Regions from separate parts of the Homo sapiens genome. Here region 1 is linked to region 2. The links come from fine-mapping of genetic effects on gene expression. A gene starts in region 2. The other region holds a variant in brackets. All regions are shown on one strand. Distances are between the middles of the regions. Region 1 overlaps ANXA5 (annexin A5). Region 2 holds the start of ANXA5 (annexin A5).

What was found. PIP is the estimated chance that this variant, and not a neighbour inherited with it, causes the effect.
Region 1: its variant is fine-mapped to the expression of ANXA5 in iPS cells (PhLiPS, PIP 0.95).

The regions. Positions count from the first base shown.
Region 1 is chr4:121,658,849-121,670,950 of GRCh38, forward strand. ANXA5 (annexin A5) reads right to left here. Exons shown (of 13, transcript NM_001154.4): 11 at 11,106-11,164; 12 at 10,754-10,876; 13 at 9,098-9,679. The coding sequence ends at 9,620. Among named protein-coding and RNA genes, the nearest start is that of ANXA5, 32 kb to the right of the region's middle. The variant T/A (reference allele first, on the strand shown) is at 6,678.
Region 2 is chr4:121,692,310-121,704,411 of GRCh38, forward strand. ANXA5 (annexin A5) reads right to left here and starts at 4,671. Exons shown (of 13, transcript NM_001154.4): 1 at 4,554-4,671; 2 at 4,272-4,315. The coding sequence starts at 4,280. RefSeq lists a silencer at 4,620-5,039.

The sequences.
Region 1 (12,102 bases), 33 kb before region 2:
CCAGCCCCCTATTAACAGGCTTTTAAAATGTTTCCATATTTTGTTATTAGAAGAAATGCTACAATGCATAGCCTTATGCCCATGTTACTGCACATCAGTGGTATCATAAGACAACTTCTAGAAATACAACTGTTGAATCAAAGAGTATATATATATTTATAAATGTGATCTATAATGCCAGATGCCCTCCAAAGAGGATAGAACAATTCACAATGGCACCATCCAGTTATAAGAGCAGCTGATTGAGAAGGCCTTTATCAACAATTATTTTTGTCTTGGCTAATCTGCTCATTGAAACATTGTACCTCACCATAGTTTTATCTTGCATTATTTTTATTATGAACGAGATTAAACATCTTTCCAATTGTTGACTGATAACTTGTATTGCCTGCTCTGTAAATGACCTTTTCATGTCATTGGCCTTCATTTCTCATGAGTTATTGATCCTTTCCTTTCAATATGAAGGACCTCAATATGTATTAGGGAAACTACACCTATGAGTTGCAAATATTTTTCTGTAGGTGATTGTTTTTCTTTTAAACTTGCCTATTGTGCCTTTGACCATTCATAAATCTTTAACTTTCAATTCTAAAAGTTTAAGGTTTATTAGTTGAATTTAATCAGTCTTTTTGTCATTTATGGCTACTAGATTTTATAACATATTAACACTTGTTCCAAAGTCAGATAATAGAGTTAATTTTAATATTTGTATGATTTCTTCTTTTTATATTTAAATCATTGATCATCCTGAGCTGGGAGTTATGGATCCAGTTTTAGTTTTTTGAGATGTCTATCCAAAAGAGTGGGTCCTGGCACTATTTATTTAATAGTTATATTTTCTCTTTTGACTTAAAATGATGCTTTATACTACGTTTCTATCTGTATTGAGGCCTATTTCTGTCATTTTTATTCTATTTAATTGGTCTGTCTGCCTACTGTATGAGTACTACACTTCATTTTAGAGCCACTACCAAAAATAGAAAAATCAGGAAGACATATTTGTCTGTGGGAAATATAATGAATGTACTTTGAATCATTTGCGTATGAGAAGATAATGGTAGCAATAATGGATTTACGTTTTTAAAACATTTGGGGGGCCTCTAAAAAATGTTACAACAGTTGTAATTTTTGTTTTAGTATCTGGTCATTCTAGCCCCTTATCACAGTCCAATTCTTTTTTTTTAATTTTTTATTTAATTATACTTTAAGTTCTAGGGTACATGTGCACAACGTGCAGGTTTGTTACATGGGTATACATGTGCCATGTTGGTTTGCTGCATCCGTCAACTCGTCATTTACATTAGGTATTTCTCCTAATGCTATCCCTCCCCGCTTCCCCACCCCACGACAGGCCCTGGTGTGTGATGTTCTCTGCCCTGTGTCCATGTGTTCTCATCGTTCAACTCCCACCTATGAGTAAGAACATGTGGTGTTTGGTTTTCTGTCCTTGTGATAGTTTGCTGAGAATGATGGTTTCCAGCTTCATCCATGTCCCTGCAAAGGACATGAACTCGTCCTTTTCTATGGCTGCATAGTATTCCATGGTGTATGTGTGCCACGTTTTCTTAATCCAGTCTATCATTGGTGAACATTTGGGTTGGTTCTAAGACTTTGCTATTGTGAATAGTGCCACAATAAACATACGTGTGCATGTGTCTTTATAGTAGCATGATTTATAATACTTTGGGTATATACCCAGTAATGGGATGGCTGGGTCAAATGGTATTTCTAGTTCTAGATCCTTGAGGAAACGCCACACTGTCTTCCACAATGGTTGAACTAATTTACACTCCCACCAACAGTGTAAAAGCATTCCTATTTCTCCACATCCTCTCCAGCATGTGTCGTTTCCTGCGTCAGATGGTATCTCATTGTGGTTTTGATTTGCATTTCTCTGATGACCAGTGATGATGAGCTTTTTTTCATAGGTCTGTTGGCTGCATAAATGTCTTCTTCTGAGAAGTGTTTGTTCATATCCTTTGCTCGCTTTTTGATGGGGTTGTTTTTTTCTTCTATATTTGTTTAAGTTCTTTCTAGATTCTGGATATTAGCCCTTTGTCAGATGGGTAGATTGCAAAAATTTTCTCCCATTCCATAGGCTGCCTGTTCACTCTGATGATAGTTTCTTTTGCTGTGCAGAAGCTCTTTAGTTTAATTAGATCCCATTTGTCTATTTTGGCTTTTGTTGCCATTGCTTTTGCTGTTTTAGTCATGAAGTCTTTGCCCATGCCTATGTCCTGAATGGTATTGCCTAGGTTTTCTTCTAGGGTTTTTATGGTTTTAGGTCTTACATTTAAGTCTTTAATCCATCTTGAGTTAATTTTTGCATAAGGTGTAAGGAAGGGATACAGTTTCAGCTTTCTACATATGGCTAGCCAGTTTTCCCAGCACCATTTATTAAATATTAAATAAAGAATCCTTCCCCATTGCTTGTTCTTGTCAGGCTTGTCAAAGATCAGATGATTGTAGATGTGTGGTGTTATTTCTGAGGCCTCTGTTCTGTTCCATTGGTCTATTGGTCTATATCTCTGTTTTGGTACCAATACCATGCTGTTTTGGTTACTGTAGCCTTGTAGTATTGATGGAACGTATCTCAAAATAATAAGAGCTATTTATGACAAACCCATAGCCAATATCATACTGAATGGGCAAAACTGGAAGCCTTCCCTTTGAAAACTGGCACAAGACCAGGATGCCCTCTCTCACCACTCCTGTTCAACATAGTGTTGGAAGTTCTGGCCAGGGCAATCAGGCAAGAGAAAGAAATAAAGGGTATTCAATTAGGAAAAGAGGAAGTCAACTTGTCTCTGTTTGCAGGTGACATGATTGTATATTTAGAAAACCCCATTGTATCAGCCCCAAATCTCCTTAAGCTGATAAGCAACTTAAGCAAAGTCTCAGGATAAAAAATCAAGGTGCAAAAATCACAAGCATTCTTATACACCAATAACAGACAGAGAGCCAAATCATGAGTGAACTCCCATTCACAATTGCTACAAAGAGAATAAAATGCCTAGGAATCCAACTGATCCAACTAACAAGGGATGTGAAGGACCTCTTCAAGGAGAACTACAAACCAGTGCTCAAGGAAATAAAAGAGATCACAAACAAATGGAATAACATTCCATGCTCATGGATAGGAAGAATCAATATCGTGAAAATGGCCATACTGTCCAAGGTAATTTATGGACTCAATGCTATCCCTATCAAGCTACCACTGACTTTCTTCACAAAATTGGAAAAAACTACTTTAAAGTTCATGTGGAACCAAAAAAGAGCCCACATAGCCAAGACAATCCTAAGCAAAAAGAACAAAGCTGGAGGCATCAGGCTACCTGATCACAGTCCAATTCTTTAGAAAGAATTCTCCTGGCACTCTTACTTGTCTGTTTTTTCACATAAACTTCCAAAAATTTTCTCTGGGTATTTTAATGAGATCACATTAAATGTATAGTTGAATTTAAGGAGAATTGACAATGTCACAATAATAAACTTACACGCACAGCATTTCATAAATGCAGGTGATGGGTAGAAAAATGCACAGAGCGCTATTGCTGGGTCAGAAGGTAAATACATTTATAGATTGGGTAAATATTGCCAAACTACCCTCCAGAGGGGTTATACCACTTTTTATTCCTACTGACCATCTGTGAGAATTCCTAGTTCACTGTAGCTTGCCGTCACAACAACGATGTTCTCCAACTTTTGGATTTTTGACAATCTGATAGGTGGAAAAAGGAATCTCAGTGTAATCTGAATTTGCGCTTCCCTTATTATGAGTTAAATCAAGCATCTTTTCATGCTTAAGGGCCATATTTCTTATTCTATGAACTGCCTATTCATCTCTTTTGCCCTTTTTTTTTCTTACTATAGTACTGGTTTGGGGTTTTTTTCCCTTTAAAAAATGTATATACCTTAATTTAAAACTACTTTATTGCTAAAAAATGCTAACAAACATCTGAGCCTTCAGCGAGCCATAGTCTTTTTGCTAGTGGAGGATCTTGCCTCGACGTTAATGGCTGCTGCTTGGGATACTGCAGCAATTTCTTAGAATAAGACAATAATGAAGTTTGCCGCATTGATTGACTCTTTTTTTAACAAATGATTTCTCTGAAACAGACTTTTTTTTCTAAGAGACAAGCTCTCGCTCTGTCACCCAGGCTGGAGGGCAGCAGCATGATCATAGCTTACTGCAGCCTCAAACTCTTAGGCCTCAGCCTCCCATGCAGCTGGAACTACAGGCATGCACCACCACACCAAGCTCATTATTTTTTCATTTCTTTTTTGAGAGACAGGATCTCCCTATGTTGCCTGGGCTGGTCTTGAACTCCTGGCCTCAAGCAGTCCTCCTGCCTCAGCCTCCTGAGTAGCTAAGCATAAGCCACAGTGTCTAGTAGTAGAGCTTCTTTCAAAATTGGAGTCAATCTTCTCAAACCCTATGGCTGCTTTATCAACTAAGTTTATGGAACATTCTAAATCCTTTGTTGTTGTTTCAACAATGTTCACAGCATCTTCACCAGGAATAGTTTCCATCTTAAGAAACTAATTTCTTTGCTCATCTATAAGAGCAACTCTTTGTCCATTCAAGTTTTATCATGACATTGCAGCAATTCAGTCACATCTTCAGGCTTCACTTCTACTTCTACTTCTGTTGCCATTTCCACCATGTCTGCAATTACTTCGTCCACTGAAGTCCTAGGCCCCTGAAAGTCATCCATGAGGTTTAGAATGAATTCCTTCCAAACTCCTGGTAATGCTGATATTTTTACCTCTGCCCATGAATCATGAATATTCTTAATGGCTGTATTAATCTGTTCCCACACTGCTATAAAGAAATGCCTAAGACTGGGTAATTTATGAAAAGAAATTGAATTGATTCCACAGTTCTACAGGCTGTACATGAAGCATGGCTGGGAGGCCTCAGGAAACTTACAATCATGGCAGAAGGCAAAGGAGAAGCAAGTACATCTTACCATGGTGGAGCAGGAGGAAGAGAGAGTGACGGGAGAGGTGCTACACACTTGCAAACAACCAGATCTTGTGAGAACTCTATTATGAGACAACACTAGGGGATGATACTAAACCATTAGAAACCACCCCAGTGATCCAGTTACTTCACACCACTCAGCACTCAGAATCATAATTCAACATGAGATTTGGGTGGGAACACAAAGCCAAACCATATCAATGGCATCTAAAATGGTGAATCTTTTCCAGAATGTTTTCTATTTACTTTGCCCAGATCCATCAAAAGAATCACTATCTATGGCAGCTATGCCCTTATAAAGTACATTTTTTAATAAGACTTAAAGGTTGAAATTACTCCTTGATCTATGGAGTGCAGAATATATGTTGTGTTAGCAGGCATGAAAACAACATTCAGCTCCTCCTAAATCTCCATCAGAGCTCTTAAGTGATGAGGTGTATTGTCAATGTACAGTAATATTTTGAAAAGGATTTTTTTTCTGAGCAGGTCTCAAAAGTGGGCTTAAAATAACAGCAAACCATGCTATAAACAGATGTGCTATCATCCATTGTTGTACCATTTATAGAATGCAGGCAGAGTAGATTTAGCATGATTTTTAAGGGCCCTAGGATCCAGGGAATGGTAAATGAGCACTGGCTTCAGCTTAACATCACCAGCTGCATTGGCCCCTAAAGAGTCAGCCTGTTCTTTGAAGCTTTAGCCAGGCATTGATGTATCCTCTCTAGCTATAAATTGCATCTTCTAATAGAAGGCTGTTTGTTTACACTAAAAATCTGTGGTTTAGTGTAGCCTCCTTTATCAATTATCTTAGCTAGGTCATCTGGAGAACTAGCTGCAACTTCTGCATCAGCACTTGCTGTTTCAATTTGCACTTTTCTATTACAGAGACGGCTTCTTTCCTTAAGCCGCATGAACCAAAACTGCTCACTTACTTTTCTTCTGCAGCTTCCTCACCTCTCAGCCTTCATGGAATTGAAAATTAGGATCTTGCTCTGGATTGGGCTTTGACTTAAGGGAATGTTGTGGCTGGTTTGATCTTCTAACCAGACTACTCAAACTTTCTCTATATCAGCAATACGGCTATTTCACTGTCTTAATCATTCATGTGTTCAATGGAGTAGCACTTTTAATTTTCTTCAAGAAAGAAAATTAAAATTTACATTTATTCTCAATTTGGCTGTTTGGCACCAGTAGCCTAGCTTTCAGCCTGCCTTGGCTTTTGACCTGCCTTACTCACTAAGCTGAATCACTTTGAACTTTTCATTTAAAATAAGAGATGTGTGAGTCTCTTCCTTTCATTTGAACACTCAGAGGCCATTGCAGGGTTATTAATTGGCCTAATTTCAATATTGTTTTGTCTCAGGGAATAGAAAGGATCAGAGAGAGAGAGAGAAAGAGAGAGAGAGATGAGGGAACAGCCAGTCGGTGGAGCAGTCAGAACTCACATATTTATCAATTAAGCCCACTGTCTTAAATGGGCATGGTTCATAGCACCTTAATTATGACAGTAACATTGAAGATCACTGATCACAGATCACCATAAGATACATAATAATGAAAACTTAAAATATTGCAAGGATTACCAAAATGTGACAAACAGATAAAGAGTGAGCACATGCTATTGGAAAAATGGTGCTGATACACTGACTCAATGCAGGGTTGCCACAAACTTATGATTTGTTTAAAAAAA[T/A]TTTTTTTTAATTGTTTGCAAAGTACAATAAAACAAGGTGTGTCAGCATGTACAAAGGAGATTAGATCTTTGTTGTATGAACTGTAAATGTTTTCCCGTTTGTCATTTAAATTGTCTTGGTGGTGATTTTCCCTCCCTCCCTCCCTCCCTCCCGTCTTCCCTTCCTCCCTTCCTCCCTCCCTTCCTTCCTTTCCTCCCTCCCTCCCGTCTTCCCTTCCTCCCTTCCTCCCTCCCTCCCTTCCTTCCTTCCTTTCCTCCTTCCCTCCTTCAGGCTCTCTGCAGCCTTGTGCTCCTGTGCTCAAACAATTCTCTCACCTCAGTCTCCCAAATAGCTGAGACCAGAGACGTGTGCCACCACATCCAGCTAATTTTTTGTTTGGTTTTTTAAAAAATAAAAATGGGGTTTTGCCATGTTGTCCATGCTGGTCTCAAACTCCTGTGCTCAAGCAATCCACCCACCTTGGCCTCCCAAAGTGCTGGAATTACAGGCATGAGCCACTGTGCCTGGCCTGCCTTCCATGTAGTTTTTGATTTTTAGGAAATCAAAAATAATCATCTTTTCTCCTATGGCTTCTGGATTTTGGGTGATAGAAAGGCCTCACACTTCAAGATCATTATGGCAGACATGGAACTGCACCACTTAGATCCCCTTTCAAGAAAATACTCAGTTCCAAGCTGTGAAAATGTGGGTTGCTGACAGCCTTCCAACTCTTAATCTCCTTCAGGTTTTGCCTCAGCTTTCCAGCCAAGCCAAGCTCTTCTCCAGAAGACACTTAGCCAATAATTGAGTAAGGAAGGTGGTGGCACAGGGCCCAGGCACTTCTGTCTCACAAAGGGCTCTTTGCAGGAACTCTTTGCCTCAGAGTTCCACATGATACTGGCAAAGATTTGGTCAGGTCTGCAGTGCAATCTGATGACACCCCTTGCCCAATCCTGCCTTCTACCTGTTCCATTCAATAAACCTGTTGCATCCCTAACTCCATCTCAGCATCTGCTTCCCAGAGAATCTAGAAGGTGCAGGTATGATGAAATCCCTCCATGCTTCTTTCTCATATGTTTATGATTTTATTTTTAAGTTTAAATGTTTCATTTTGAGAGTTACCTGATACATGAGGTATAGAAAAAGCCTTATATTTTCCTAGATGGCTCCCCAACTGTCTTCACACCATTTGTTAGAAAAAAATGCTATCTTTACCCAGCAAATTAAGACCTACCTTTAACATATACTAAATTTCCAAATGATTTGTTTCCATATCTGAACTTGCTGTTTTGTCTGTCTATTCATGCCACAGTATTATACTGTTTCAGCTATTCAGGATATGTAGTCTAATCTGTGTAAAGAATAGAAGAATAGTGCTCCCTCACTACTCTCAAGTTTTACTAACAATCCTTCCTTTTTTGCATGATGTTTACAATCAGCTTATCTAGTTCCACAAAAATTTGTCTCCCAATAAACTCACAGAGAGCTGGGAAGAAGGTCACTAAGTAAATAAATATAGCAAATGTTTTTTGTGGATTTTTATTTTTTTAATTCTTTTATTAATAAATTTTCAGATCCAGACCTACAGAAAATATAGCAAATGTTAAAGCTCACAGGTGGATTTCTCTTAAAGTGTTACTAATAAATAATCCAGGGCTTATATTTAAAGCCAGTGGCCTATTTTCAATAACAGAACAGAGCTCTTTGAAACATATCATCTTCTATGTGAAAAGTATAACCAACTGATTCTCAACTTGCCTCTGCATTAAAATTGCCTATGAGGCCTCTCAAAAAAACAAAAATCCAATATCATGTGTACACATACAGTTTTTAAGATTCCCCTGGTTATTCTGATGAGCATCAACGGTGGTGAAAAGAATATTATCACTATTTTAAAGTTTTCAAAGGAAGATTAGTTCATTTTATTTAAAAAAGCTTATTAATGGCAATTACTTGGCTTTAAAAAAAAAAATGCAACCAGAAGGGCATAAGTACAAAAAGAAAAATGACACCAACTGAAATGGCAGTTTGAAAACAGAAAACTGAAAGGCAAATATTAGAAGAGATCGATAAACTGCTTCTTTCTAGAAAAAATTATTGTCTTTTTTATTTATCTCAAAGAAAGTGACAGACAGTAAATGGGAGGCAAGTTCACAATAGGAAAGAGGAAAGAGAAAGGTAGTACTCTGAATTTTTGCATTAAGTTTTATAATTAGCTTTTCTACTAAGCAAGTAGCACCACAAGCATTGCTTTAATAGATGCCTAAATAAACATGGTGCAAATAAACCAGAGACCCCTTCGATCTTTCCTATATTTAGGAAAAATCATGTACTATGAAGGAAATTCAGTCTATGGTTTGCATTTCTTACTGCCCAAAAGACCAACTGTAAATTCAGTTCTCAACTAACACCACTGTCAATTATTAGCTTAAAAAGAGAGAACATTGTTAAATAAATTTAATAATAAATCTAAACACACATGTACACATAATTCAGGGGGACAGAAATGTTTATTTTTCATTAATCTTTTGAATACAATCATCATAATTTTACAGGTTTAGTTTAGTTGCGAACTTCACTAATAACATTTCCAAGAGTTCACAATTTCAAGGCTAAGCTTCTGATTAAAGTATCATGGTTACAAATGTAATATAAATGGAGTTTTTAAAAAAGGCTAAAAGCACTCTAGCCTCTTAAAAAATATATATAAATGGAAAATGGCCAGGCATTAAACTTAGTAACATTAAGTACACTTTAGTACTACAGCAGTCAAAGAGATCTCCACTAGAGATCAGAAAGAAGCACCACTATTTTCTTCTATGACGTGTATGTGTTGGTCATGAGCATGCTAGTATGAATAAGGCAATGTGTTAAGCACTGGCATACAAATGCAGCTAAAGGTGCTGAAGGAAGGCAGTGGGGTGGTGCAGGCACACAGCAGGGAGCTCTTCCCCGTGACACGTTAGTCATCTTCTCCACAGAGCAGCAGAAGAGCTTTCTTATAGTCCCCAGATGTATCTCCCTGAAACCAAATGTATTCCATTAACCTCCATGACTCACAGAAGCCATAGAAAATTTTAAAACTAAATAACTGGCAACAAATTTTATTCATAAGACTCTTCTCCCAAGTGGGTAATCTCTGTGACTTTCACATCAGGAATGTTATGCAGGGAGTTTCCTACCAATGTAACCTCAGACACTCAGTATTCCCTCTGGTAACACAAAGAATCAGGCAACTTTAACAACTATAGTCAAATCAAGCCTTCTAGACAGAATAGTTTCTATCACTTGGTATATATCAGCTAACACGGGCAGTGCTGGGGCTGCAGGGCTGTCATGGCTCTCCCTCCGAGACAGAAGGGCAGAACATGCTTTGCATCTGCTTGTCTCACATGCAGACATGCATGATAAATTAATGTTTCAAGCTAAAAGTGCATGGGTAAACTCTCTAGTGTCCTTTGGGCCAGCCAAACCACAAACATGCTAAACTAAAAGCTTCTGCTCAATTGAAATCTTGCTTTGCACATGGTCCACATTAACCTTTACTGGAAAAAAAAAAAAAAAGTCAAAAGACTTTAAGCTAAATGTAATTATAGGCCACAGAGCACCTTGTTTTAAAAAGAACAAAAATGATACTAATACCTAGGGGCTCTTTACTCCCAATATGACCTGGTTGGCTCTTTCCTGAATTAGAAACCAGCATCAGAGATAAGGTGATAACAGACGATAAAGAAAGGAAAAGCTGATATGAAATAAAAGAAGGACTAATAAAGACAGCTGGAATTGATAAAAGACAGAAAGAACACATTATTATCATAGGCAAGGGGTTTGGTTTGTTGAGTCATCTGTTACCACTACTAAATAATGCTTCTGAGTTCACCAAGAGCCTCAGCCACATCAATACCCATGCTTTCACTTGGGAGCCATCATCTCTACTTCAGGAAACATTATGCTAAGCTTTTTAACTCATTGCTCTAATCGTGTCACTAAAATTTTAAACTTAACACAAGAATCAGGTTCTCTTATCCTTGTCTTTCATGCAACATACCAGTCTGCTTTGGATTCCCAAACGTAATTTAAAGAAAGGTTCTACTACCTTAATCATGGAATAAAGAGAGGTGGCAAAATTCTTCCTAAACTCCTTCCTGATGTTAAACAGATCAATCTCACTCCTGGAAACCATGACTCTGATGAGGGTATGATCATCTGTCCCAGCTCCCTTTAAAAAAAAAAAAAAAGAGAGAAGCAAAATGCTTAAAAACTTCAAACATAGGATCAAATGCTCCCGGGTGCGGGTGAATCAATAAGGTATAACAATTTAGTAGAACTGGGTTGAATGTTATAAGGGAAAAATTCCCAAGGTCTATCATCTAAAACATAAACAAAAGTGAAGAATAATAATTAGAAAGAGAAATGTATTAGATAGAAGGTTCATGGTCTCCACTTACCTTCATAGCATAATAGAGGGTCTCTGCAAGGTAGGCAGGTATACTTCGAATAGATTTCACTAAGAAAATAAACAATACAATGGTCAAATGCTATTTTGATATGTAAAGGATTAAGTAATTAAAAATCAAGTGCTGCTTCCTGCTTATAGCTCTACTTCTATAAAAACACAAAAGTACCAGAGGCTAAAGAGCTGTAAGCTAATCTGATTTCCTCACTCACCAAGTATTTTCTTAGACACTGGCTTAGGTTTTCCTTGGAGTTCTGAGGTCTGCATAGAAAGGCATGGAGAATAAGGGCACAGGTTTTTCTATGCGCCTTGGTTCTGTGAAGACTTTTTGGATACTGCAGTTTGGGCAGCCTGGATTGTTATCATAATACCACAACATTCTTCATCACCAATAAATTACACAAATCCCTTGGAAGTTTTCATTCCAAGACATTAAAGCAAATAATACAAGATTACTACCTAATTTTTTTAAACTCTTGGGTGATCTTCCTATACTCTCTACATATTCTTTAATATCAATGATTCACACAGAGCAGCATGAGATTTATCCATTTCAGTACAAAAACAGATAAATCAATATCAGAAAGGATCTCTTCTCTGAACATGTACATGTTGAATGTAGGTTGGGGCTGCTCAGACCTCAGTCTGCTTAGCTTCAGAAAATCTATCATGAAAATTCCTTAATATACAAAAATAATCCTTGCATGTGGAGATTTCTTAATTCTCCCTTTTCTAAGTCTTAAGAAAAACAGCCACCAGTAACTGAAAATGTCTTAATTTGTATGCGTATTCTAATTATGAAGGACCTGTCTAAAAGTTTTCTGGTAAAAGTACATTAACTGTGTACTCAAGTGAAAGGCTACTTTTAGAGTTGGTTCATGCAGATCTTTAGCTTAGTCTCCTGAAGACAGAGAGCACAAAAGTGTGAGCTCAAGGCCAAATACTTGGAACAAACAGCAGACAGAGGCTCACTGCAGACCCATATGAAC
Region 2 (12,102 bases):
TGCTCTGTGTTTAATGTTGTGTCTCTTTACCAGTGTAAGAATGACTTCCCTTGACAAACACCAATAAAATGGAAAGTTAAATTGTGTGCTCAAGTTGCCCAAGAATAACTCCAGTGATGTCTTGAGTGAGTTAAAGTGAGCAGGTGGCATTGGCCTCCCATGAGTTCACATTGAAGGTCAGAGGAGAGTATGCTCTTTTACCAAATTGTTCCATTGGGCATTCCATGAATAACACTTGAAAAGTTCTATCCCTTCCAAGACAAGGCTTGATTTCCCCACCTCACTGCAGTTTCACTCCATCATGCCAAACTCTTTTACACCCCTAAGTATTTATTTGCTGTTGTTACCTCTCTGTATGATGGCTTCCCTCCTTTGTCCCATACAAAGAATGCCAGCTAAGTAACCTCAATTTCCCCTTCTGTGAAACAAAAATAGTAATACCTATTTCCAAAACTGTGTTATGAGGACTAAATAATGCACACAAAAGACTTGGCAATGCATCTATTATATCAATAAATCTTAGATCCATTTCCCATTGCGCTCATGTTTAACAATACTTGGCACATAGTGAAAATGCAAAAGCCTCATGCATTCATGAATGCATGCATGGATGAAAAAGAGAACAGTTAAGAACTAGTGTCCCACCAGGCGCAGTGGCTCATGCCTGTAATCCCAGCACTTTGGGAGGCCGAGGCACACGGATCACTTGAGGTTAGGAGTTCGAGACTAGCCTGGCCAACATGGCGAAACTCCGTCTCTACTAAAAATACAAAAATTAGCCAGGCGTGGTGGCACATGCCTCTAATCCCAGCTACTCCGGAGGCTGAGGGAAGAGAATCAGTTGAACCCAGGAAGCAGAGGTTGCAGTGAGCTGAGATCACGCCACGGCACTCCAGCCTGGACAACAAAGCGAGACTCCATCTCGGGGGAGAAAAAAAAAAACCCAAAAAACTAGTGTCCAAAGAAATGAAGCCAGGAGTATAATTCCTTGCAATTAATCAATTGATGATATGTTTACATATTATGTAAACTAACTAAACTGAAAGACTGCGTCTAAGAAGCACTTAAAGCAAAGGTCTTAGGAGCCCTAATTTTTAAAAAACAGATGCATTTGTGAAATTTTAGAATAGTATGAAGGTTATATGAATAAAATGTATTTCAGGAATGAATCTATGCTGTAAAAGCACTGTTATATTTTTACCATTTTGAACTTCTAAGTCATTAAAAGAAGAAAGCCGGACTGCCTGCCTGTAACTAGCCTGATCACCTATGTAGGCCTTCCAAGGAGAACTGGATATTAGATAAGGAAATCAGGGTTTGCTGAATGCCAATGAATTGCTCAGTGGCTTGCAAAGCAGCCAAGTAGTTTTTGATCTAGTTCTTTCTCAGCAGCCAAAATGAACTTAAGAGTTAAACAGATAAGGAACCAAGAGAAATCACCAGGAGCAGCACAGGCCACGGGTAAACAGGTAACCCTGATCTAAGATCCCAAAAGTGAACATTAGCTCCAGAGAGACTTGACTTTAAAAAATGAATGGCATGAAAAGATGCAATCAATATCCAGTCAGCTCCTCTGGAAGGAGTTTCATCTCAAATTTATTTATTTACATTTATCCTGCTTGCTCGGCACAGGGCTTTTTTAAATTATTATAATAATTTTAAACCAACCGAAAATATTTCTGATCAAACCTTGTAACTTAAACATATACCATAGAGATAATTCTGATGTTCATGAGAACACTTGGACACAGAAAGGGGAACATCACACACCCACACCGGGGCCTATTGTGGGCGGGGGGGAGGGGGGAGGGATAGCATTAGGAGATACAGCTAATGTAAATATTGAGTTAATGGGTGCAGCACACCAACATGGCACCATGTATACATATGTAACAAACCTGCATGTTGTGCACACATACCCTAGAACTTAAAGTATAATAAAAATATATATATAATAAAAAATAAATAAAAAATAAACAAAAAAATTCTGATGTTCATGAAGCTTCTAATGAACAATTACGTAGCCTAGTTTTGCCTTCATGACATTCTTACTGCTCAGACGCCGCACCCAACTTTAATACTAAACTTTTTTTTTGAGACGTAGTCTCACTGTTGCCCAGGCTGGAGTGCAGCAGCGCGATCTCAGCTCACTGCAACCTCCGCCTCCCGGGTTCAAGTGATTCTCCTGCCTCAGCCTCCCGAGTAGCTGGGATTACAGTTGTGCACCACCATGCCCAGCTAATTTTTGTATTTTTAGAAGAGACGAGGTCTCACCATGTTGGTTAGGCTGGTCTCGAACTCCTGACCTCGTGATCCACGTGCCTCAGCCTCCCAAAGTGCTAGGATTACAGGCATGAGCCACCATGCCTGGCCAATACTAAATATTTTAACAAAATGTTTTACTTTCATGATTTCCAAAAATAGTAACAAAACTAGAACAAAATTTAACACTCTGTATCTTTTTTAAAACATTACTTGTAACTTTTATGATTAGTAAAAACTGTAGTTTTGATAGAAAACAGTCTTGGTGTTATATTGTCATAGGGCTCAGGTACATAATTTTATATGCAAACCACCATTCTCCTAGGTTTTCTATACACATGGCCTTTATGATACTAATCATTCTTTGAAATTATTAAAATTAATGTCCACAACTGGAAAATATGTTCGCTTATACTATTTGGGTAAACAGTCTACATAATGAAAAGGAATTGATGGACCCTCAGACATCACTGGGGAACTTACAAGAGATTCAAGAAACTGCTAAATGAGCAAAGATAGAGGGAATTATTATTCGATGCTTGTTAAATCTTCATGTACATCACCACACCAGCATATCAAGATAGGAAAAATATTACTCAGGAAAGTTAATTCCACATAAAAGTATCCTTTCTATGGAGAAGAACTTAAACCAAACTTTCCACTTGAAGTAATATGAGAATTGGTTTACTGTAACATTTAAGTGCAAAAGAGGAGGTAAGAATGGGATCACTGTGTAAGTTTCATAAAGTAATCAACTAATCTTAATCCTCCCATTTTCACTTGGAAAGGACCAAGAAACCTTTTTCAATTTTGATAAGTCAATCTGATAAAAAGTGAACTATAAATAAGAGACAGCATTGTTTTAGCAGTTAAAACACTTGTTTAAAAAAAACTATCTGGACTCTGACAAGCCGGTTAGATTGACAAGATCTGTGAAATCAGTTTTAGAGTTTTTAAGCCCTGGTATCTTATTCACAAAAGACTGTATAACATGGTCAATATTTAAAGACCTTAAACTATCTTCTCTTTCCTACATTTTTGATAAACATTAATAACAGTAAAGAAACCAGGCGCAGTGGGATTACAGTCCTGAGGCCGAGGCGGGAGGATCACTTGAGGCAAGGAGTTTGAGACCAGCCTGGCCAACATGGTGAAACCCCGCCTCTACTAAAAATACAAAATTAGCTGGGCATGGTGGGGCGCCTGTAATCCCAGCTACTTGGAAAGCTGAGACACGAGAATTGCTTGAACCCGGGAGGCAGAGGTTGTAGTGAGCGAGATCACTACGTCACTGGACTCCAGCCTGGGCGACAGAGTGAGACTCCGTCTCAAAAAAAAAGGAAAAAAAAAAAACAGTAAAGAAAGCCTGTAGTAGATTATCAATTTCTGAAACAGTCCCAAGGCAAATTCAATTGAGAACTCGTTCCACGAGTTCATTGCTTAAGAAAAACAGCGCTTGTGTTTAATCTTTTGGATTAAAAAAAAAATCAGAGCCTACGTCCTACAGTTTTAGTAAAACTGGGCTGAGCAACTGGAAAAAGCCAATGCTCAATCACAGTATTAAAATACAGAAAACTTTGCGGAAAAAAAATAAAGGAAGTCGGGGGGCGGGGTGGGGGGGGAATGCGTTCGCCTCACATGACCACGATGAGCTGTTCTTGCTCCGGTTCTAATTTGAGCTACTCTCTGGATTTTGGGGAAGGCCCACTTTTACACATTCACTCATGAAAAGGGAGCGCACACAAATCCGGCCACGTCACCAGCTGTTGCGCGCGAAGGCAGCTTGGCGGCGTCGGTGCTGGTTCCGGAGGGCGCTCAGCGGGAAGAACCGGGACACAGAAACGGGGGCAGGGAAGCAAAGGGGGAACAAGAAAAGTGGAAGCGATGTCCCCAAAGCAGGTTCCCTTTCCTCCTAAACTTTTTGGCTCTCAGACAAATCCTAAAAGTCCCTCGTCGCAGCATACAAAGTTGTGGGTAAATCCAGCGCAGTGGGGGGCGCACGGCCTTACCTGTGCCATGGCGACTACTCAGGTCAGGGGAAGGTGAAGCAGGACTGCAAAAGAGAAGAAACCTCGGGCTTAGCGCGCCATTTGCAACTCGTGCCCTCCCCAAGCGCAGGTCCGCGGGGACCCGGCGGCGCTCAGACAGCCCGGAGGGCCCCGCCACGGGGCCGACCCGCCCTCTCGCAGCTACCGGGACAGCTCTCGGCCGAGCGTCCGCGCGAATCCAGTGCCCCGCGACCACGCTCTCCTCTCCAGAAGGAGCCCCCTCCCCGGGCTGCGACCACTCACCCAGACTGTGGGACCCAAGTGCCCCGAAACCCCGGGAGAGCGGCGGAGAGCCGGGCGACGGTACGCGGGGCGACGCCGAGATGCAGACGCTGAAGGATCCGGCAGCTGCACCTAGACTGATCCAAGCAACGGAAACGCCAGCGGCCCCACCCCGGCCCTGCCCGGCTTGGCCCGTCCCACCCCCGCCAGGGCCCCAACCGCAGGCCGGCCGCGCCAGCCGGGCCCGCCCCTGCCCCGGCCTCAGCGCGCCTGCGTGGGTCGCGGCTCGTCCCAGTTGGTCTCCCGCGGCGCGGACTGTCCCGCTGGTCTCGCGGGCCTGGGTGGGGAGCGGCCGCAGAGCTGCTGGAACCAGGAGGAGGCGCCGCTCCCCCGAGGGCCCCGGAGACCTCTTGTCCTCGCGCCGCGGGAAGGGCCTGGGGAGCTGTCCAGGGCTCGGGGTTTTGGAGGTGCTTGAGCCTCCCTGCCCTCTGTGACCGCAGGAACCGTAGCCTCACTTGGGTGCTCAACATAGTGCGTGGGCGTCTTTTTGGAGGCGAGACAAAATCATCGCAGCTAAGGACAGCGCGCCTTTGTCGATGGGATAGAAAAAACGTGAAAGGAGGGCCGTTTCCCAAGTTGTTTTTGTTTCTGTTTTGTTTTGTTGTTTTGTTGTTGTTTTAATGCCTATTATTGCTTCCTAGATGGCCCTCTCTTAAATGTACAGCCTTCTAGTAGCGTATGTGGGCTATTTGAAAACCTCTGCTTCCAATCAGTTTCTGTTTTCAAAACTAGCCTAGAACTTTAATATGACTTAAATTTGAGCAATGCCTCATATTGGTTCAACATAAAATATATGAGTATATGAGAGAGAGGGGGAGGGAGGGAGAATCTACAGCGTATTGTACTAGCATGGTGCTGTGTTCTGTGAAAGGGCTTTATATGCAAAGCAGCCCCCAAACGCGAAGGAGTCAAGAAACCAAAGAACGAGACAGACAAATCCAGTCTGTAGGTAATAGGGGTGCTATTGGAGGATGTGGTAGACAGAAGCGTGGCCTTGGGCGGCGGCAAGCAGATAAATTTCTGCACTGTTACTCCCCAGACCCTGGCCTTATATACCGTAAGGAAAGAGTATACTGCTCTGTGCAAGACAATTAAAGGCAGCCCTCCGGAACAGGTGAGAATGCCGTATGCTTCATAGCCTACAATGTGGGCAATAGCATCAAGGTTGACATGTTCTTATGCTAAGGACAGTTTAAAAAAAAAATCCTAGGAATCAGGAGGTATTCATGGGACTGGGGTTATTAAAGGTCAACATGGCGGATTAGCATCCGGGATATAATCACTTTTGTCTCCATATGCTGGAAAAGGAAAAGTAGAAGACACAGGGACCTTCTCAGACTTACTGGTGTGGGGAGGGAAGGTGCCAGGGCAGAGGGGGCAAGAGGACAAGTTTGCGACACTAGATGCAGTGTTCTAGACATATGCTAGAATGGGAAGGGCAAAGTGCTTCTCAACGTGGAGGTTAAGGGTAAGAGATGAGGATCTAGTCTTCTTTGAGAATGAGGAAGAATAAATTAAATGGACAGCAAATGTGGTTCTTTGTATAGAACTTCTCATTCGCTTTCACGTGTGAACCACATGCCTATTCCAGCCCTGACAAAGTCACAACAGAGTGGTTGTTCTCTGGGAAAGGAGGCAAAATTGCAAAATTTGTGGAGCTTGCCAACCCCATCACCCCCACCCCACTGGCGGGTTGCCTTTCCTCTGGGAGCCTCCTCTCCACCAGCCCAGCTGTCTACTCAGCCTCAGGCTCTCCCCAAGTCAGCACCTCCCCCGGGTTTTCTTTACAGGTATTAATATATCTGAAGGCAGCCCTTTTCTGAGCATCTGTCTCCGTTGCTCCAGCTTTTCTACTTTCTCTCTGCCCTGCACCAAAAGCAGGACCTGTAGTCTTGCCTAGAGCATTCTTTTTTCTCACCCATATCCACTTGAACTCAGTTTGCTTCTCTCACTTTCTACTCTCACATTAATGGAGTTAAACAGGACCTCAGAGATCCTGTATTTAACAATCATTGATTTTACAGGGACATGAGACTCATCATGGGTTAGTGACTTGCTCTATGTCCTGCAGCTAAATACTGACAAAATCGATGAGTTATTGGACTCAGAGTCTTGAAATACTCCAGGTAGCATTTCTTTCACTTCCAGTAATATCAGTTTATTCAACTCCTACTCTGGACCAGGCACAGATCTAGGTGCTGGGGTAAACACGGCAAGTGAAACAAAGGCCTTGCCCTCATAGGTCATACATTCTGGTGGAGGAAACAAACAATAAACAAGTATCTAATATGTCCTGTGTGATGCGTGGTATAAAGAAAATAAAGGCTAGGGAATGGAAATGAAGGGAACACTTATTTTGCAAAGGTGATATGAAGCCATTTCTGAGAAGCCTTGAACAGAAACCTAAATTGATACAATTTAATTGTATTTGACAACTATACACTGAGCACCTGTGGAAAGGCCATACCTAAGAGTTTGCACCTTAATATTATAGATAAAGCATGTATATGAACACTACAATGAGAGACTATAAATCAGGAAAGAAATGCCTAGAATGCAATCAAAATGCAATTAGTTTCAGAGGAAGGAGCTAATATTTTGTCAGATGGTTGACATAGCATTTGGATTAGGCTTTTGAGAGAGGATATTTTATCAAACTATGAAGGGGAGAAAGGGTGGTCTGGTTAAGTGAACTGCAAAACCAAGAGAAGGAAAGTATCTCTTTGTGTCTGTGTGATTTGAACTGTCTAAAATGGCTGGAGTGGAAGGTACAATATTAGAGTTGAGAGATGTAGAAACTAAAACACAAAGAAGCTCAGCGACTTATTTAGAATAAAGAGAGATTGCCACATAAAGATTCTGCTTTGAATTGTGTATTTAATTGATGGATTTTGAACAACTGATGTTCTTAACTACTGAGTGATATAAATGATAGGCACTCAGGAAATCTCTTTCACTACCTCTTGTCAGCCTAATAACAAACAGAGAGGGAGACTTTCTAAAAGAAAATGATGTTTATTTGGGAATGGGCATTGCAATGGGAATATGTGTGCCATATTAAACTATTTTGCGTATTCAGGGAGGTAAAGGAAGGCAAAGGTTTTTCAAGGAAGAAGGAAGATTACATCATTGTTTTTGAGATAATTATCCTTGGCTACAGTAATCAATAACTAGAGTGGCACCAGTCTAATGTTGTACAGGCAGTTGCTGGGCAGATGTCTCCGCAGAAGTTCTCATTTTCTCTCTCTCTCTCTCTCTCTCTCTCTCTCTCTCTGTGTGTGTGTGTGTGTGTGTGTGTGTGTGTGTGTGTGGTTGCAATGGCCTTTGTCCAAAGTTGTGGTTTTTGCAGTATTTTTCAATAGTTCTTGTTATCAGGCATTTATGTATTAGAACCCTCCCTTCATGGCCTTCCCCAGCCATTTGTCAGGGATTTGTCTCGTTTTTTAACACAATTGACTCCATTTTGATAAGGACAGCTTTCACACTCTTAAAAACAAGTGTCTGTCATTCATCCCCCAATGGCCTTTATCAGTGTCCAAATGTCATCTTTAGAATCTCTGCCGGATTCGCCAGTTAAGTCTTTCATCTTTCTAATTAAATTTTCTCTTCTTACACATTTAAAAATTAAAGTCCTTCTTTCTCAGTGTATTGTCTTTGTGTTGTGTTCATTATAAGTACTACATAATAATTGTGGGGAGTTTTTTATACTATTCTTAGATATAAATAATGAGTTTCAGCTGTTTTCTATGAGACACTCAGGTCACATCAATTTTCTTTTTATTAGAGAAATATACCAAATGCCAGAGAACTAATTTACAAACACACTTTTGAAACTGTATTTATTTGTTAACTCAGGATTTTCCCTATTTCTCTCAATTATTTGGATCATTCAGGAACTAGCCAATTTATTCTAAATAAGTCGCTGAGCTTCTTTGTGTTTCAGTTTCTACATCTCTCAACTCTAATATTTTGATCATATATTCATGGCCCTACTGTTTCCCTTGATTATAATGACACATAAAGAAAAGAAAATGAGTTACAGGCTTTTTATAAATAAGTACAAAACAACTCTTCTTTAGTTTTAGAGGAATTGGAATCTTGTTTTTTAGAAAATTATAACATTTTCAACCAGTCTACTTTAAAAATTGATTTTGTTTAATAAATATATCTATTGCAAATTATGGCAAGTTAAAGAAGAAGAAAAGATGGCAGGAGAATGAATTGCATGAAGCAGAAGAAACGAGAGAGTGGCTGAGGAGTAAAGTAGGGGCTAGATACAAAGGGAAAGGAGGAACATCATGTCTTCCAGGCAAGATCTGGAAAAAGCACACTCTCTGAAGACAGAGACAGTTGAGTTCAAATCCCTACTCTGCCTGCATACCAGGGATGTGACTTGGACAAATTATGTGATTTCTCTGATCCTTGGCTTCCTTATCTAGAGTGGAGGCTAGTTTCAAATAAGTTAATTTGTGAAACTGCCTAACAAATTGTGAAAAAGGGTTGATTCCATTCCCCCATGGCTCTTTTTTCTTTCAGAAACACTAACCATCATTCTCAGTTCCTGTTCTGATGATTAAGGACCCACCTTCATATTAAAAGCAAAAATAACCTCCTCTGGACCCACTGCTCCACTGCAGCAGGACCTATTGCCAGCCAGTCTCTCAGAGACGGCAGGTCCAACTCTTGGGGGCCAACCTGATGCTTCCTGGTGCCATTCCCCCTTCTTCCCGCCTATTCTGCCTCATCCAGAGTCTACCATCGATGGCCCCTATCAACATACAACTAGCCTAGACCCCCACCCTCTACCCTTCTCTCCACACGTGGGCCCTCTGATCCCCATCTGCTGGTGCCAACAACTGTAAAACCGTCACCTGGAATTTAATTCAAGTCACCTATCTGCCCTCAACTCATTCATGTCTTAAAGTCCCAGGGTGAGATTAGAGGTGGGGCTGCCTTCCTCAGTGGGCTCTGTCAAGTCTTTTTCCACCATCATCTCTACATCCCAGCAGTGATACTGGAATGTAGCTTTATTCTAGTGGCTCCCCATTCTTGCTCTTTAGGTTTAAAGTGGTTGTAGTGTCTCTGGAGAAAATAGGTCTCTCAGTGTGTTCAGGCTGCCATAACAAAATTGCATGAAGTGAGTAGCTTATAAACAACAGAAATGTGTTTATCACAGTCTGAAGCCTGGAAAGTGCAAGAACAAGGTTCCACAGATTTGGGGTCAGGTGAGGGCTTGCTTCCTCATAGACAGCCATCTTTACTGTAACCTCACATGGCAGAAGAGACTAGCTAGCTCTCTGGGGTCTCTTTTTTAAAGGCACTCTTAGTCCCTTTTCTGTTGCAATAAAAATACCACACACTGGGTAATTTATAAAGAACAGAAGTTTATTTGGCTCACAGTTCTGGAGACTGGGAAGTCCAAGAGCATGGCACCAGCGTCTGGTGAGGGCCTTCATGCTATATCATCCTGCGGAGGAAGGCAGAAGGTAGAAGGGAAACCAAGCACTTGAGACCAAGAGAAAGGTGACCAAATTCATCCTTTTTATCAGGAACTGACTCCCGAGATAACTAACTCACTCCCGTTCATGACCTACTCACCTCTTAAAGGCCCACCTCTCAACACTGTTGCATTGAGGATTAAGTTTCTAACACATGGACTTTGGAGGGCATGTTCAAACCATAGCAGGCACTAATCTTAATCATGAAGTGGAGTTCCCATGACCTAATCATCTCCCAAAGGCCCTACCCCTAATGCCATCACCTTAGAGGTGAAGATTTCAACATATCCATTTGAGAGGGACACATTCAGACATAGCAACAGGTCCAGGTATCTTTCAGAAACTCATCCTGAGCTAACAGTGCTAACTATCCCCTTATTGAGATCCATGTGCTCACCAAGAAATTAAAAGCAGAGACTCCTCAGGAGATTTTCAGTTTTAGATGTCTTTCCATTATTTTTATGCAAAACATTTGTATTTATCCAGTAAAATGTAAATCAACTTTCCTAGTAGGACACTGGAATGTAGATCTTGGGTAAATAATTAGAATATCTCATAGGAATCTTTCATGCAGAATTTTTAGGTGTGATTGAGATTCTCAACACTATTAGTAAAAGAAGCAGTAAAGGCTGGGCACGGTGGCTCACATCTGTAATCCCAGCACTTTAGGAGGCCGAGGCAGGTGGATCACTTGAGCCCAGCAATTCGAGACCATCCTGGGCAACATGGCAAAACCCCATCCCTACAAAAAAATACAAAAATGAGGGGGGTGTAGTGGCACACACCTGAAGTCCCAGCTAGCTACTTGGGAGGCTGAGGTAGGAGGATCATTTGAACCCAGGAGGTCAAGGCTACAGTGAGCTGAGTTCACGCCACTGCATTCAAGCATGGGAGATAGAGTGAGACCCTGTCTCAAAAAAAAAAAAATAAAAGAGAAAGAGAGAAGCAGCAGCAATAAAAATACTAAGCATGCATATAAAAGGACAAGCATCCTGCATCTCTTGTTTATTGCTGAATCCCCAACACCTAGCACAGTGCACATATTAATACATTAACTCATCCATTCAAAACATTTCATGAGCACCAGGCCGGGCAGGGTGGCTCACACCTGTAATCCCAGCACTTTGGGAGGCTGAGGCAGGCAGATCATCTGAGGTCAGGAGTTCGAGACCAGCCTGGCCAACATGATAAAACCCCGTCTCTACTAAAAATACAAAGATTAGCCAGGTGTGGTGGTGCACGCCTGTAATCCCAGCTACTCGGGGGCTGAGGCAGGAGAATCACTTGAATCTAGGAGGCGGAGGTTGTAGTGAGCCGAGATTGTGCCACCACTGCACTCCAGCCTGGGAGATAGAGCAAGACTCCATCTCAAAAACAAAACAAAACAAGACAAAAAAACTCATGAGCACTAAGTAACTGCTCATGAAATGTTTTGAATGGATGAGTGAATGTATGTATGAATGCATTGAATGCATTATAGTATAGGGGTATTGGTTTTCTTAAACAAAGGTTGCTATTAACTGCAAACTACTTATATTAAGAAGGCTATGAAATGAGATATGAAAAAGAGTTAAAAGGCAATTTTATAAGGGAGAACTTTGCCAGGGGAATAAATGTATTCTAGACAGCATTCTGAATTCCAAAAAGAACTCATCCATGGTTAGGTTAAGTTTTATTTTATGATTTTAACTAGTGTATGACCTTGGACAATGATTTGATTTTTCCTTATTTGGAATGTTGGTAAAGATTAAATGTGTTGACTTGTTTAATGCGTAAAAATAACAAGAAGATGAGTTTAAATTTCTCACCCCTTTTTTTTCTTCCAGAAGCTCTCACCACTGAATCCCACCTTCATTTTCCATGCTGATGATTCAGTCCCCATCCATCCCACTCAAAATCTAAAATTAGCCAGGATCAGTGGCTTGTGCCTGTAATCCCAGAAACTCGGGAGGCTGAGGCTAGGAGGGTCACTTGAGCCCAAGAAGTCGAGGCCAGCCTGGGCAACATAGGGA